Homo sapiens: one gene and its partners. The protein of the gene in region 3 purifies or fractionates together with the protein of the main gene of each other region. This does not show direct contact. Each region holds a gene or a part of one and is shown on either strand. Other genes may lie near its edges. The genes, in order: TUBGCP2, REEP5 and GPR84.

Region 1 (3,847 bases), on a different chromosome or scaffold from region 3:
GTGATTTGCAGGTGACATCGCAGGTGTTGAGATGACACTGAGGATGTTGAATATTGGGGAGGTGAAGCAACTGACTCTTTTTTTGCTTGAGACAGGGTCTCACTTCGTTGCCTAGGCTGGAGTGCAGTGGCACAATCTCAGCTCACTGCAGCCTCGACCTCCCAAGCTCAGGTGATTCTCCCACCTCAGCCTCCCGAGTAGCTGGGACTGCAGGTGTGCACCATCACACGCAGCTAATTTCTGTATTTTCAGTAGAGACGGGGATTCGCCGTGTTGCCCAGGCTGGTCTTGAACTCCTGGAGTCAAGCGATCTGTCCACCTTGGCCTCCTAAAGTGATGGGATTACAGGTGTGAGCCACCATACCCGGCCTAAAGCAACCCTTGAGGTCCCTCCACAGCCAGGCGGCTGGATCCACACTAACCCCCACCCCACGGCACCTCCACCCCACCGTGAGGCTTCTCCCCACAAGGGCATTGGCCGAGGCTTCGTGGCTGTGGATGAATGAGGCCAACATGGTGGAAAGTAAGTGATGCAGAGTCAGAGGCAGTTCCTGGAAGATGCACTCGCTGTTCCCAAAACGCCAAGCCACACCCACTCCTTTAGGGATGGTAGACATTGGGGTCTCGGTTTTATTGGTCATCCTGAGAAGGCCACTGGAGTAATAGAAAGAAATGGAATTTGAAGTTGAAAAGTGTAGATCTGCCAGCCTGGGCAACACGGCAAGACCCCACCTTTACAAAAAATTTAAAAATTAGCCAGGAATGGTGGCACGTGCCAGTGGTCCCAGCTCCGAGGGAGACTAAGGATACAGGATCGCTTGAGCCTGGGTGCTCAAGGCTGCAGTGAGCTGAGATTGCACCACTGCCCTCCAGACTGGGTGACAGAGTGAGATTTGTCTCAAAAATAAAAAAAGGAAAAAAAAAAAACAAGGACAGTGTGGATCTGCATCAGGATTGAGGCTTTCGCTGAAGGGCTTGCGTTGGTGACGGATTGTAGTCTTGAGGCCTGCAGTCACAGGACACTTCCCAGCAGATGTGTGAGGCTGACAGAGTGATTTTGTAAACCGAAAGCCTGTTGTACGGAGCCTTCCTGAGCTGCCAGGGCCTGGTTTGGGTATGGTCTGGCTGGCACGGGGCCCTGTCAGGCCCTCGTGGGGACAGTTTCAACATCCTGCTTTCGTCTGGTGCTCCTCCCGGCCCCCCAGGCATGGCCCGCCTGAGGCTGTGGACTGAGAACTTGGTCCTGGGACCTGAGGGGTTTGGTGGGTGGCGGCCCGTGGCCGTCCTCGTGAGGAAGCTTAGCTGTGTGTCCTGCAGCCGTCTCATCCTCTCTGGATAGAAATTATCAAGAGTTTCTTAACGTTTAAGTGATAGCTTTTTAAAGACAAGGTTTTTTGTCCCAGAGTAACTCAGACTTACCAAGTTGTACTTACCAATGTTGAAAGTGCAGCTTCTGCTGGAGTCGCCTTTTCAACTCCTAACTTCACCTTTTCAAATGTCAGCCATGTATCTGAGCATTGCGGAGCCGAGTGTGGTGAGATCTTGACACCAGCCACCACGCCTCCCAGGCCGGCCCCGTCCTGCGGCGGTTGGAACTCAGCCTGTGGCTCCCCAGTGGGGTCAGTCAAAGCCAAGTGCAGTGGCTGACCTTTTATACCCATAAACAAAGATGAGCAAGAGTGAGACTGACCCGCAGATGAGGGCACGTGGCTGTGGGGGCATGGGAGTGGGGGCTGCAGAGCCACAGCGCTGTCTGTGCCCGCAGGCACGTTGCCCCTGGCCTCGCAGGAGTCGGCCGTGGTGGAGGACCTGCTGTACGTGCTGGTGGGCGTGGACGGGAGGTACGTCAGTGCTCAGCCCCTGGCTGGGAGGCAGAGCCGGACCTTCCTCGTGGACCCCAACCTGGACCTGTCCATCAGGGAGCTGGTGCACAGGATCCTCCCAGTGGCCGCCAGCTACTCCGCTGTGACCAGGTGGGCACCGGGCGCGGTCCCTGGGAGCCTGCGCTGTTGTGGGGGAGGGGTTAGGTCCCATCCTGATGACCATGGGGACGTCTGCATCGCTTCTAAAGAGAGCGCCCGCCTTGGTGACAACTCCGTGCCCAACTCAGTTTTGGAGGGTCTGTGAGTCACCATCCAGGGTCCTGACTCATCTCCTCCTGGGGCAAAAGTTCCCCTCTGGGATGTGGGGTTCAAGTGAGTCATTTGCTTCCTGTTTGGGATGAGACTCAGAATATCGGACATTGTATGTGCCTGCAGCTTGCCTTTTTGAGGAAGTCTGACAGCTTTTCTTCCAGGTTCATTGAAGAGAAGTCTTCCTTCGAGTACGGGCAGGTGAACCACGCCCTGGCGGCCGCCATGCGCACCCTGGTGAAGGAGCACCTGATTCTGGTGTCACAGCTGGAGCAGCTGCACAGGCAGGGCCTCCTTTCGCTGCAGAAGCTCTGGTTCTACATCCAGCCAGCCATGCGCACCATGGACATCCTGGCCTCCCTCGGTGCGTGCCCGCCCGGGGGGCATGGGGCAGTGGTGGGTGGCAGGTGTTGAACATGGCACCCAGTGTGAGGAGAGACTCTGCAGGGGCCGTGGAGCAGCTGCCCAGGGCAGGGGCGTGTGGCCAAAGCTCATGTTGCTCCATGTGCTATTAACTTGCAAGAGGAAAGCCCTGGAAGCTCTTACTGGTCAGCTGAAATCAGCAACTACAACCTTACAGTTAATACGTATCCCAAAGAAGCAGCACCGTCCCAGGAAGAAGGTTGGAGAAGCATGAGGGGCCCCAGCAGTGTTGTTGGCAGAGGCTGGGCGTGCGCTTCCTTCTCAGCAGTGAGCCCTCCTTTCTCCCCACAGCCACCTCGGTGGACAAAGGCGAATGTCTTGGGGGGTCCACGCTGAGCCTGCTCCACGACAGGAGCTTCAGCTACACAGGGGACAGCCAGGCGCAGGAGCTATGCCTGTACCTAACCAAGGCGGCCAGTGCTCCCTACTTCGAGGTTCTGGAGAAGTGGATCTACAGGGGCATCATCCACGACCCATACAGGTAGGGCTCCCCGGGACACGGGGACACGGAGGGACACGGGGACACGGAGGGACATGGGGGACACGGAGTGTGCATGCTGCCCTCTCCCGTACAGGTAGGGCTCCCCGGGACACGGGGACACGGGGGACACGGAGGGACACGGGGGACACGGAGTGTGCATGCTGCCCTCTCCCGTACAGGTAGGGCTCCCCGGGACACGGGGACATGGGGGACACGGAGGGACACGGGGGACACGGAGTGTGCATGCTGCCCTCTCCCGTACAGGTAGGGCTCCCCGGGACACGGGGACATGGGGGACACGGAGGGACACGGGGGACACGGAGTGTGCATGCTGCCCTCTCCCGTACAGGTAGGGCTCCCCGGGACACGGGGACATGGGGGACATGGGGGACACGGAGGGACACGGAGGGACACGGAGGGACACGGGGGACACGGAGGGACATGGGGGACACGGAGGGACACGGAGGGACACAGAGGGACATGGGGGACACGGAGGGTGCGTGCTGCCCTCTCCCGTACAGGTAGGGCTCCCCGGGACACGGGGACACGGAGGGACACGGAGGGACATGGGGGACACGGAGGGACATGGGGGACACGGACGGTGCATGCTGCCCTCTCCCGTACAGGTAGGGCTCCCCGGGACACAGGGACACGGAGGGACATGGGGGACACGGAGGGACATGGGGGACACGGAGGGCGCGTGCTGCCCTCTCCCGTACAGGTAGGGCTCCCCGGGACACGGGGACACGGAGGGACACGGGGACACGGAGGGACATGGGGGACACGGACGGTGCATGCTGCCCTCTCCCGT
Region 2 (3,500 bases), on a different chromosome or scaffold from region 3:
AATGCCTTATAGGCCATTGTAAAGGTTTGGCTTCTACTCTATGTGAGATGTGGAGGTACTGGGGACTTTTAACCACAGAAGCAAAATGATCTGTCCTGTGTTTTAATAAGATGCCTGTGGCCACTGTATTAGGAACAGACTGAAGGGGTAAGGCAGGAAGTTGGGAGAACAGTTAAAAGGTTCTTGCAGTGATCTGGCTGGAGGTGATGATGGTGGCTTGGTTCCTTGTGTAGCAGTAGGGGGTAAGAAGTATCAGATTCTTGATATATTTCAAAGGTAGAAGTAATGGGATTTGCTTATGGATTGGCTTATGGATTGGGCATGGGTCAGAGGGGTTAAGGACAAGGACGAGCTTTTTAGCCTGAACAGATGGAAGGATAAAATTGCCACTGAGCTGGAGAAGACTGGGTAGAACAGGTTTTGTTGGGGTGGGAGGTTGTGGTGGGTGGGAGGATATGGAATTTAGTCCTGGACATTTGTTTGAGGTGTCTGTTTGTTAGATACCTACAAGGATTAGTCAAATAGCTAGTTGGATACAGGTGTCAAGAGTTCAAGAAACAGGTCTGGACTGGAGATATAAATTTGGGGGCCACAAGCTTATACATATTAAGCATGAGACTAGATGAGATCACGAAGGTAGTGTAGTTAGGAAACAGGAGGTCCAAAGACTGAACGCTGGGGAGTCTAAGGTTTAGAGACTGGAGAGATGAGAAGCAACTAGCAAAGCAGACTGATAAGGAGTGGCCAATTGAGGTAGCAAGAAAACCATGAGCGTGTGGTATCCCTGGGGCCAAGAACAGAAAGTTTTTCTTTCAGAGAGGAGAAGTGATCTGTCATGTTACATGCTGTCAACAGGTCAAGTAAGATAAGGACTGAGAACTGAGCAGATTTAGCAATGAGGAAGGTACTAGTGATTTTGATAACACAGATTTTGTGGAGTGATATCAAACTCCTGATTGCAATGGATTTGAGAGAATGAGAGAAAAGGGATGAGAGAATATAGATCTTTCTTTTGAGAAATTTCCTGCAAAGGAGAGCAGAAGAATGGGGCTATAACTGGAAGAAGGAATTATGGTCCTGAAATTTTAAAAGTTTTTTTCTTAAGGTAGGAGAAACAAAGCCTGTTTGAAAATTAATGGGAATAATTCAACAGAGCAAAAAATGATGATAGGAGTGAGAGGGTGAATTGTTGGAGCTCTGTCCTTGACCAGTGAAGGATCCAGTATACAGTAGAGGGATTGGTCGAAGAGCTGGAAGTTTATGGTAACAGCAGGGAAATCAGGTTTTATGGTATGCTGTGAGCACATGTGACTATGGGAGCCTACAGAAGTGACTTTCTAATTGTTTCATATTTCTCAGTAAAGTAGGAAGGCCAATTGAGAGAGGATGGGGAAGGAGACAATGGAAAGAGAAGGTATGAAATAGTTGCGAAGGAGAGGGACTGCTCATCTTTTTCTGTAAAGGGCCAGATAACAAATGTTTTAAATTTCGTGGGCTATCATGTCTCTGTTGCAGCTACTCTTCTCTGCCATTGTAGTGTGAAAACAGCCATGGACACTACATAAGCGAGTTTGGCTGCAGTGTGCTGGCCCCTCTAGGACAGTTGGAGAGTAAATGGACTGTCAGGCAGTGTTAAAGGCATGCTTGAGATTTGCGTTCATGAATTTATAGTGAAACCAGTTCTTGTTTATGTTTTTCTCCAGCCATACTCAGCTACATGGGTATAGCTACAGAGTAGGTGGAGAGTTGTGTCAAGGTTGTGATTTCCAGCAAGAACTATGAAGTGAGGGTGGGACTGTGGAGTGGTTAATGCTTGACAATGGAATTTAACCTGAGTAAGGTGGGAAGTGGTGGTGGAAGAACTCTGAATCAGGATAATAGCGGGAATACTCCATCATCATCTACAATGAGCAAAAAAGCAGGGTGGGGAGTGCACTACAAAGATAAAAGGTGATGGTGGCTGAGTGGGATGCTTGATACAAGATTATGGAGGGACTGCAGTATTGGTACTAACAGGGATCCTGGGAGTCAGTGCCATATGTAGGGTGGAATATAAGGGTTATTGGAGGGGAGGAACTAAGAGGTCAGGATATTAGAAGATCATCACATATGTCTACATGGATATTAAAATCATCAATAATTAAAATAGGAGTAGTAGGTCAGGTGCAGTGCTCACACCTGTAATCACAGCACTTCCAGAGGTCAAGGTGGGTGGATTGCTTGAGCTCAGGTGTTTGAGACCAGCCTGAGTAACATGGTGAAACCCAGTCTCTACAAAAAAAAAAAAACACAAAAATTAGCCAGATGTGGTGATGCGTACCAGTAGTCCCAGCTACTCAGGAGGCTGAGATGGGAGGATCACCTGAGCCTGGAGGTTGAGGCTGCAGTGAGCTGAGATGGCATCACTGCATTCCAGCCTGGGTGACAGAGTGAGACCCTGTCTCTAAATAAATAAATAATAGGAGTAGTGTTAGAAAGGAACATTAAGTTAGGAGCTAAAATCTTCAAGAACTAAGGCAAAGTAGCCCAAGAGTCAGGGATGACAGGGAAAGGGAAGGCTACTCAGTGATAGAATCTGATGACATGAGATTCTGAAAGTGGCAATGAAGAACAAAAACAACACCTACCAGATCCATTTGTACTAGGGTCATGAGAGGAAAGAAACAGCCACCACTTGAGAAAGCAGTGTCCTCAGGGCACAGCCAGCTTTCTCTAAGAGCAAGAAGGTAAAGGAAACATTCGGAGGAATGGATGAGGATATAGATTTTGCCAGTGATGGGTCTTGAGTTCCAGAGGGACTCAGATTTTAGAAATTGGAGAAAGGTTTTTGTGTTTTAGAGCTCTGTGGTAGTTAGACATGGGAGTTGTGAGGTTGCCTGACCATGGGGAAGTAAAATCCCAAGACAGTTCTCCAGCAGCACTGATGCCCCAGAAGTGGTATGTTCCCCATTTCTCCCTCACAGACCTCTCTTCTCTGGACTCCTATTTTTGGGCATACAAATCCAGTCTACTTGAATATGTTTTAGGTATTTTTTAACTTGTAGCCTTAACCTCCTCCCACTTTAGGATTGCCAGCTTTTTTTTTTTTTTTTTTTTTTTGAAACAGAGTCTCACTCTGTTGCCCAGGCTGGAGTGCAGTAGCATGATCTCAGCTCACTGCAGCCTCCACCTTCCAGGTTCAAGGGATTCTGCTGCCTCAGCCTCCCAAGTAGCTGTGATTACAGGTGTGGGCCACCACGCCCAGCTGATACTTGTATTTTTAGTAGAGACACCGTTATGCCATGTTGGCCAGGCTGGTTTCAAACTCCTGGCCTCAAGTGATCCACCCACCTCGGCCTCTCAAAATGCTGGGATTACAGGCATGAGCCACCATGCCCAGCCAGGATTACCAGCTTATTTTTAAGAGCTTTCTTTTCTTCTCCCTTCCCTTAGCCTAATCAGCAACCTGTGGTGATGTCATTTCTGTCTACTTCACCCACATTTCTTAGCCTCTTGGTTCT
Region 3 (3,600 bases):
ACCTCCCAGACTCAAATGATCCTCCCACCTCAGCCTCCCCAGTAGCTGGGACTACAGGTGCACATCACCACAGCTGGCTATTTTTTTTTTTATTGTAAAGACAGGGTCTCACTATGTTGCCCAGGCTGGTCTTAAACTCCTGACCTGAAGTCATCCTCCCAGCTCAGCCTCCCAAAGCATTGGGATTACAGGCATGAGCCTCCAAGCCAGGCCTATATAGTATTTTAAAGCAAGCCTCAGCAAACTTTTTCTCAAAGGGCCTGATTATAAATATTTTAAACTGTGTTAATCAAGAGATAAAACTGAGGATATTACATAGGCACTTATATAACAATTTAAAATATAACCATTTTTATTTTACTTACTTATTTATTTATTATTTTATTTTTTGAGACGGAGTCTTGCTCTGTCATCCAGGCTGGAGTGCAGTGGTGCAATGTGATCTTGGCTAACTGCAAGCAACCTCCGCCTCCCGGGTTCAAGCGATTCTCTTGCCTCAGCCTCCCTAGTAGCTGGGATTACAGGCGCACCCATCACGCCTGGCTAATTTTTGTATTTTTAGTAGAGACGGGGTTTTACCATGTTGGCCAGGCTGGTCTCGAACTCCTGACCTCAAGTGATCTGCCCTCCTTGGCCTCCCAAAATGTTGGGATAATGGGCGTGAGCCACTGCACCTGGCCTAAAATATAACCATTTTTAAATGGAAAAAAAACATGATTGGGTCACAGGCTATACAAAAACAGCAGACTAGATTTGGCCCATAGGGTGAAGTTTACTCACCCTTGCTCTGGAGAATCGATTAAGCATTTGCATATTTATGTATCTGTCTCCCCTAGTAGACTATGCACAAGGCCATATATCAGACGTTCTTGTATCCCCAGTGTCTAGATCAGAGTCTGGTGTATAGTAGGCACTCAGTACTAAGTTGTTGGGTAAATGGATAAATGAATGATTGAACAGGACCCTGATCCCTTGAGGAGAATGAAACCAGAATTCTGGATGCCTCATTCCCCACTTTTCTTCATCTGACTTGGTTTCTCAAATGTGCTAGGGTGTCACATGGGTCCCTCTGACTTGAACCATGTCTAAGCCGTGGAGACAAGAAAGGTAGTGCTCCTCTGAAACAAACCCAAGGCTTCTGGGGGTACCTAAAGTTGCTCCTGGAACTTGGTCTTATCTTTTGGCCCTTTGAGGAGTGGCCCAAATGTTCTGATGCTCTGACTCCGTGCCCTAGCAATTCTTGGCAATGATCTTACAGATGAGTTCTGCCATGCAAAGAGGGGAAGAAAACAGAGTTTGGGTTTCAGGAAGGAGAAAGGAAGAGTGAAACCACTCTGAGGTAAGTAGCGGGGGACTTTCAACAGAGAAGCCTAGATTTCACTAGCCGAAGCAAAATGAGTAGGACCGGAGGTGGTGAAGGAAGTGGCTGGGATTGGGTAATGGGGGAGTTTCTTATTCTTTCAGTGGACTATAATAGGATACATAAGAGCAGGATGTCTCCTGCTTGAAGCCTAACTGTCCACCAGAAAGGACTGCTCTTTGGGTGAGTTGAACTTCTTCCATTATAGAAAGAATTGAAGGCTGAGAAACTCAGGTAAGCACTTTTGTTGTGGGTATACTTTTACCTTCTTGGTCTCCTCATCTCCCAGGTGGTAACAAACAGAAATGACTAAAGCCTATATGTGTGTGTAGTGGAAAGGAGCAGAGGGAACTGAATACAGAGAGGATCCTGAATACACGATGCTGAATAGAGAGAGGGGACTCCTGGGGGTCTTTGGGGATGGGGAAGGAATTAAAAAAGTTGGAGGGCACTGGGTTTACTGAGAGCAGCGGGATGGATATAGAAGAGGACTGAGGTTTGGAGCAGAATAAGACTAAGATATTTAGGCAAGAGATATTTAGATAAAAACTTGGGGAAATATTTGAGAATGGGAAAGGACTAAGAGAACCTAAGGAGAGAGTTAGGGATCTTGAGATGAAGAGGCCTGGGAATGGTTCAGGAGGATACTGAATTAAGGTGAGGTCCAGGAACAGTTTAGATGTCCAGGGTCCCAGAACTGTTCAAGAGATCTAAGTTGAATGCTAGGTTCTGATTCCCTCTTCCTCTTCCACCCTCTGCCTCTTTAGCCTCTATCATGTGGAACAGCTCTGACGCCAACTTCTCCTGCTACCATGAGTCTGTGCTGGGCTATCGTTATGTTGCAGTTAGCTGGGGGGTGGTGGTGGCTGTGACAGGCACCGTGGGCAATGTGCTCACCCTACTGGCCTTGGCCATCCAGCCCAAGCTCCGTACCCGATTCAACCTGCTCATAGCCAACCTCACACTGGCTGATCTCCTCTACTGCACGCTCCTTCAGCCCTTCTCTGTGGACACCTACCTCCACCTGCACTGGCGCACCGGTGCCACCTTCTGCAGGGTATTTGGGCTCCTCCTTTTTGCCTCCAATTCTGTCTCCATCCTGACCCTCTGCCTCATCGCACTGGGACGCTACCTCCTCATTGCCCACCCTAAGCTTTTTCCCCAAGTTTTCAGTGCCAAGGGGATAGTGCTGGCACTGGTGAGCACCTGGGTTGTGGGCGTGGCCAGCTTTGCTCCCCTCTGGCCTATTTATATCCTGGTACCTGTAGTCTGCACCTGCAGCTTTGACCGCATCCGAGGCCGGCCTTACACCACCATCCTCATGGGCATCTACTTTGTGCTTGGGCTCAGCAGTGTTGGCATCTTCTATTGCCTCATCCACCGCCAGGTCAAACGAGCAGCACAGGCACTGGACCAATACAAGTTGCGACAGGCAAGCATCCACTCCAACCATGTGGCCAGGACTGATGAGGCCATGCCTGGTCGTTTCCAGGAGCTGGACAGCAGGTTAGCATCAGGAGGACCCAGTGAGGGGATTTCATCTGAGCCAGTCAGTGCTGCCACCACCCAGACCCTGGAAGGGGACTCATCAGAAGTGGGAGACCAGATCAACAGCAAGAGAGCTAAGCAGATGGCAGAGAAAAGCCCTCCAGAAGCATCTGCCAAAGCCCAGCCAATTAAAGGAGCCAGAAGAGCTCCGGATTCTTCATCGGAATTTGGGAAGGTGACTCGAATGTGTTTTGCTGTGTTCCTCTGCTTTGCCCTGAGCTACATCCCCTTCTTGCTGCTCAACATTCTGGATGCCAGAGTCCAGGCTCCCCGGGTGGTCCACATGCTTGCTGCCAACCTCACCTGGCTCAATGGTTGCATCAACCCTGTGCTCTATGCAGCCATGAACCGCCAATTCCGCCAAGCATATGGCTCCATTTTAAAAAGAGGGCCCCGGAGTTTCCATAGGCTCCATTAGAACTGTGACCCTAGTCACCAGAATTCAGGACTGTCTCCTCCAGGACCAAAGTGGCCAGGTAATAGGAGAATAGGTGAAATAACACATGTGGGCATTTTCACAACAATCTCTCCCCAGCCTCCCAAATCAAGTCTCTCCATCACTTGATCAATGTTTCAGCCCTAGACTGCCCAAGGAGTATTATTAATTATTAATAAATGAATTCTGTGCTTTTAATGCTCAGGTGTGGTCTCTGGGGAAGAAGGAAACAGGTCACGGTTAGGCTCAGGGGCCA

What was found.
Region 1: the proteins of GPR84 (region 3) and TUBGCP2 purify together in Homo sapiens (affinity purification with mass spectrometry; one large-scale study listed by BioGRID and IntAct). This does not show direct contact.
Region 2: the proteins of GPR84 (region 3) and REEP5 purify together in Homo sapiens (affinity purification with mass spectrometry, with the first as the bait; one large-scale study listed by BioGRID). This does not show direct contact.

The regions. Positions count from the first base shown.
Region 1 is NC_000010.11:133,291,688-133,295,534, reverse strand, and holds part of TUBGCP2 (gamma-tubulin complex component 2), read left to right. Parts: intron 1-1,765; coding exon 1,766-1,973; intron 1,974-2,296; coding exon 2,297-2,496; intron 2,497-2,846; coding exon 2,847-3,036; intron 3,037-3,487; exon of another isoform or gene 3,488-3,847. UniProt on the Homo sapiens protein: Component of the gamma-tubulin ring complex (gTuRC) which mediates microtubule nucleation.
Region 2 is NC_000005.10:112,880,728-112,884,227, reverse strand, and holds part of REEP5 (receptor expression-enhancing protein 5), read left to right. Parts: intron 1-3,500. UniProt on the Homo sapiens protein: Plays an essential role in heart function and development by regulating the organization and function of the sarcoplasmic reticulum in cardiomyocytes.
Region 3 is NC_000012.12:54,362,387-54,365,986, reverse strand, and holds GPR84 (G-protein coupled receptor 84), read left to right. Parts: upstream 1-1,500; 5' UTR 1,501-1,594; intron 1,595-2,127; 5' UTR 2,128-2,135; coding exon 2,136-3,326; 3' UTR 3,327-3,542; downstream 3,543-3,600. UniProt on the Homo sapiens protein: G protein-coupled receptor that responds endogenously to dietary fatty acids or nutrient, specifically medium-chain free fatty acid (FFA) with carbon chain lengths of C9 to C14.